Regions from separate parts of the Homo sapiens genome. Here region 2 is linked to region 1. The links come from fine-mapping of genetic effects on gene expression. A gene starts in region 1. The other region holds a variant in brackets. All regions are shown on one strand. Distances are from middle to middle.

The links.
Region 2: its variant is fine-mapped to the expression of MICAL3 in whole blood (INTERVAL, PIP 0.99).

What each region holds. Positions count from the first base shown.
Region 1 is chr22:18,023,045-18,026,043 of GRCh38, forward strand. MICAL3 (microtubule associated monooxygenase, calponin and LIM domain containing 3) reads right to left here and starts at 1,517. Exons shown (of 32, transcript NM_015241.3): 1 at 1,237-1,517. RefSeq lists a silencer at 1,245-1,654.
Region 2 is chr22:17,997,102-17,999,913 of GRCh38, forward strand. The region is part of intron 1 of MICAL3 (microtubule associated monooxygenase, calponin and LIM domain containing 3); the gene reads right to left. Among named protein-coding and RNA genes, the nearest start is that of MIR648, 18 kb to the left of the region's middle. The variant TA/T (reference allele first, on the strand shown) is at 1,461.

The DNA.
Region 1 (2,999 bases):
GCATTTATGACAGTTGCATACCCTGCCCTCCAACGGCAGCCTGAGAGACTGAACTATTACCAAGTTCACCTGGAAAAATGTCACCCTGATTGATTAGAATGGTGGGTGGCCATCTTAGCTCATTAGAATCACCTGGGAAGTTAAAAAAAAAAAATCCAGTATGCACTCCAAATTTTCCCACCACCACTCCTCCCCACAAAAAGAAAATTTAAAAAATCCCAGTGTTTGGGCCATATCCCAGACCAATTAAGTCAGAATCTCCAGGGATTGGACCCAGGTAGCAGGATTTCTAAAAATCTCCCCAGCAGCCAGGCCTGAGAGCTAATGAATAGCACCACAGGGCCCAGCCTTTCAGCCTACAGCTTGTCTCGGTTTCACCCTTTTTTCATTTCTTTACAATGAAAATTCTAAATAGTTGATCACAGTGCCAGACCAATAAGAAAGCATTTTAGGGAGGAGAGAGGAGGGAAGGGGTTGGCAGGCACGGAGAGGACTTGACACACAGAAAGCATTTTGCTATGGAGTCATAACCATTTGATTCTAAGACACATGCAGCCTCCAGAAGTCATGCGGCCCCGCCCTCTGCTTCCAGGAGGGAATGAACTTGGCCGTCCTTTTGTTGCACACGCCCGGGAGCTGCGCCGGCGCAGCGCGCCCTGCAGCCTGGGAGCGCAAGCGTGTGCGCCACTGGTCCTGGGCCACCACCGCGCGCCGCGGGCGGGTGCAGGGCCCCTCTGCCGCAGGGAAACCGGCGTTCCCCGCGCAAAGCAGCCGCTGCTCCTAATGAGCTCATGGGTTCACCGCGCTGAGCTAGCCAGAGCGGACCCGGCTTCGCCAAGGGCCTGCTGGCTGTCCTGACACCTGGCCTACCTCGGGGGTGCCTGGGTACGCTCTTCCTTTGCCTGCGGGATAGAAGCACAATGAAAATGGGGTGGACGTGGCTGGGAGACAGCCCTGCTCTCTGGCAGGCTCTGGGGAGTGTGTGGTACGTGGCATCCGCACTGGTGGGTGTCGTGCGATGATCGAGACACGGATACTGGGTGTCTTTCCCACTAGGGGAGAGAGGGCTGCGTTTAGAGGGAAACGAAATAGATCCGAGAAACACAAAGATGTCACAAAGGAAACGCTTCCCCACCATAAGCAATCTAAATAAATGATTCTTAGAAGACATCCAGCAAAACACATAACCTTGTCATTTAGATTCGCTCGCCCACAGGGGGACTGGAGGGTACTCACCGACTAGGGCTTCACAGCCGCATCACCGCCGGCGGTGGGCGCCTGCCTCGGCAGGGGCAGGGTGGGTGCCCGCAGGGCACAGGTGCCGCCGTGGCTGCTCGCACAACCCCTGCAGCTGCGATCCCGCCCAGTTAGCCTCGGGGGCTGCACAGCCCAGCCCCCTCGCCCAGGGCCCAGGGGTTCTCAGGCCGCGCGGCGAGGACGGAGGGCTGCCCCGGGTGCCTGCCTACGCGGGCGCTCCCCGCCGGGACTCCGCCGGGGCTGCAGGAGCGCGCGCTGCTGGCTGGGCGGGCTGCGGCTCCGCGCGAGCGCCGTGGCAACGCGAGCGGGCGCCCCCAGGAGGCCGCGGAGCTGCGGCGTGGGACGCTTGGGTGAGGCTCAAGCCAAAACCAAACCCAAACCATTTCTCCTCCTCCCCATCTTTTCATTTTCTCCCCTTCTTTTCATTTTCTCCCCTTCTCCAACCCCTTCCTCGACACACGTTACTAGCACCTCGAAGGTTGGAAATTCCAGCACTCTCCTGAGGCCTCTTCCCCAGCGAATCCTGCTAACCACGCAGTCGGTGTTCGCTGTGTGTTCGAGCACACACCTCCTTGCAGTGGCTTCAGCACCCAGGTCTCCGGGAGCCAGTGAAGGAACCAAGTGTTGGATACTGAGCAAGTCGCGTAACATCTGAGTAGTCGTGAAATTGAAATTTCAACGGTATAAAGGACACGACGTTGTCTTACAGATTGAAAAATGCTATAAAATGAAGTTCTTACTGTTACTATGATGATGACCCTGGAGATCAGCGCAGAGCCCTGGGGGAGGGCTACAGTTGCAAGCGCTCCAAGGATCAGATCGCGCACTCCTCCCCACCGGAGAAAACCTCTTGATGCCGGAGCCCGGGCAGCCTCTTCCACACTTCCAGCCAGCCCCTTCCACACTTCCAGCCAGCCCCGGCATTGCCACAGCCCGTGGAGCTGGACAGAAATCCACCAGGCACTAAAATAAGTTAGATGGAAGACGGGATGGATTTGACCAAATTCCTATCAGCATCTGCTCAGTATAATTGCAACATTATAATCAGAGCAGAAAGAAGCCCAGAGATTATTTTGTCTTCAAGGATCATTGGCCTCAGTATTATCTCCATCTGAAGCTGTGTTGTCCAAAGCAGATTGACTCCAGCCGGCCAGCTCAGAAGAGGGCCGACTCTGGGCTGGCGACTCCTTGAGAAGGGCTCTCTCTGGTCCCAGGTGGTATTTACTTAACCGTATCATCATCTGCTTCATTCGTGTTCCCTTCATGTCCATCATGTGAGGACGGGAACTGACAGGGCCAGGGTGTCGGCTCAGAGGCAATCTCTGCTCATCCTCTAGAGCCCCACTTCATCACCCAGCCACTCTGTCCACTGTCTCCCCACCTACAAACCTGCAGGTGTTCTGCCCCAGTACTAGAATAAGGGAACACATTTTTACTGAGCTCTGACAATGTGACTGGGCTTTTCAGGAGCTATTTCATTTAATTTTTAATGTAAAACATTGTTTTACATATTAAGAACCTAAAAGCACAAACAGTAAGTAACTTGCTTGTGGAAGCTTATGCAGCGAGATAAGTGGTAAAGCTGCAATTCCCAGTTTTGTTTGATGCCACAGCTGAAGGTGCAAGGCCATCTGGGCACGGCCTGAGTGGATATTAGGGAAAAATGCCCTAAAAGGTCCAGAATCTCTAATAATTTCTCCTACTTCTCATTTTATTTTATTTTTGACGCTGGAGTTTTTTTT
Region 2 (2,812 bases), 26 kb before region 1:
CTGGAGTGCTGGAGTGCAGTGGTGTGATCTCAGCTCACTGCAACCTCGGCCTCCTGAGCGCAGGCAATCCTCCCACCTCAGCCTCCAGAGTAGCTGGGACCACAGGTACACACCACCACGCCCAGCTAATTTTTGTACTTTTTGTAGAGATGGGGTTTAGCTATGTTGCCCAGTCTGCTCTCAAACTACTGGGCTCAAGCAATCTGCCCACCTCAACCTCCCAAAGTGTTGGTATTACAGGCATGAGCCACTGCGCCCGGCCCATCTGGTCTTATTAAATACTTCATTCTCTGCAAATGCAGACGTTTTCTCAGCTCTGATTATTTTTTCTAAAGTAATGACCCCCCACCTGGCTAGATGAATGCTTCTAGCAAAGGAAAAGACCAGAATGTGAAAATTGTACTGCAATAGAACATAAAGCCCGTCCAACCCCACCTCCCATCAGACCTGGGGTGGTGGCAGCAGCAGGCGTCAGGGCTCTCAGGCCTGCCCATTAGTCATCCCTAAGGCCCGTTAGCACACGGGTTAGGAGGAGCACACACTCTGGAATCAGAAAGCCCAGGATTGAACCCAGCCCTGCTTTCAGTCAAGGCTTTGTCACTCACTATCACTCCCTTGACCTAGGACCTCACAAAACCTTGTCATCCGTAAAACTGGGGATGATAAGTTCTACCTTGAATGTTGTTGTGAGGAATAAATGAGGTAATGTCTATGCAGCACCTAGCACAGATTCCTGCAGATAAACACTCAATAAATGTTAACTATCATCCACTACCTAGTCATCAGAAAAGCACAATGATCTGGTATCTTTAAGTCCTTCCGCTTCCAAAAAAAAAAAAGAAAAGAAAAAAGAAAAAGATGTGTGGATTTTTTCCCCCTAAAGGTCTCAGTGAAGTGAAACTTAAGAAGGAAAACCTGGGCCGGGTGTGGTGGCTTACGCCTGTAATCTCAGCACTTTGGAAGGCCAAGGAGGGTGAATCACCTGAGGTCAGGAGTTCGAGACCAGCCTGACCAACACGGTGAAACCCTGTCTCTACTAAAAAATACAAAAAATTAGCAGGGCGTGGTGGCAGGTGCCTGTAGTCCCAGCTACTTGAGAGGCTGAGGCAGAAGAATCGCTCGAACCCAGGAGGCAGAGTGCATGAGCCAAGACTGCGCCATTGCACTCCAGACTGGGCGCGACAGAGCAAGAGACTCCGTCTCAAAAAAAGAAGAAGAAGAAGAACCCAATTCAAATCCCAGTTCAGGGACCAACTCATTTGCAACTTAAAGCAAATCATGTTACCTCCATTTCTTTGCCTATAAAATGGGAATAATAGACTCTATTAAACTTTAACGACTTCAGAGACAATTAAGAATCAATGAGATAACAGGTCATGAAAAAGCTTTCACTTCCTCAAGTAAAAAGCAACTAAGTAGTAAATCCAGAGCATAATAATAATAATAATTATTATTATTAT[TA/T]TTTTTTTTTTGAGATGAAGTCTCGCTCTGTATCCCAGGCTGGAGAGCAGTGGCGTGATCTTGGCTCACTGCAACCTCCACCTCCCAATTCCCGGTTAAGCAATTCTCCTGCCTCAGCCTCCCCAGTAGCTGGGATTACAGGCGCGCACCACCACGCCCAGCTGGTATTTTTAGTACAAACAGGGTTTCACCACGTTGGCCAGGCTGGTCTTGAACTCCTGACCTCGTGATCCGCCCGCCTGGCCTCCCAAAGTGCTGGGATTACAGGTGTGAGCCACCGCGCCGGGCCCAGAGCATAATTATTATTAAAATGCCAGGCCCCATAATATTATGGAACATAAATAAGCCAATGATGGCTCTTATTTTTTCTAGAACATTAGATTTGATGCCCTTTTCGTCTGTTCACATGGAACCTGCTACAAGACGGAGAAGGCAAATGGCTGCTCCTAGCAGATCCCAGTTCAGAGGCACGGCCCAGCAAAGCTAGCACTCTGCCAATGGTCAGGCTTCGACCATCTGGGCCACTTCCCAGAAGCCAGTGCCAGGAGAAATTAGGTAATTCATCTGGTTCCACCTGGACATGTGAAACCAACGACAACCAAAATCCTCACCTGCAGGACTACTCGACAGATGCAGGAAAGGGTCCCCTTTGACCCTCTGCTCTTCTGTACTGAATGGTGTACCACTCTTCCAGGGCATGTGCCATCCTTCCTTTAAAGGGCAACACATGATCCAGGAAGAAGAGCTCAATTTTTCCTTATTTTTACTTCTAGGACCAAGACGTGAGTTTCATTTTTAATCTACCACAGAAATGTCTGGAGAGCTGGAAGTTTGAGTGGGAGGAGGAATGGGGGGGACCTCATTACCCTAATTTAAAAACGGAGCATGCAACCAAAACTGCATCCAATATCATCATCCCCAGGTCTCTCAAACCCAAGGAAGAGAGGAAAAATTTACTTTTATGTTTATTGAACATCTGCTACGTGCCAAGGACTGTGCTAAGTTCTTCACGTACATTATTTCCAAAGCCCATTTTCTCTTCCACACCTAGTAACACCATGGAATAACCACCACGGAACAGGATCATCCCAGGTGGGGGTTTGGGGGGAGGAATTACAATATGCAGTCAAGTTTAAGACGTTTCAAATGTTAGCGCTGTAAACACAAATAAACAGCCTTGACTGAGGAACCAGGTCTGAGTTCTAAAGTATCCTTTACAGGAGGAACACACAAACCATGTCTTTCCTATAATTATGAAATTAACTCAAGCTGTTGAATACACTATAAAAGAGATTTAAAACTTCTAAACCTGGAGCACAAGAAAAACTCACTATAAGACTTGAACAATCTG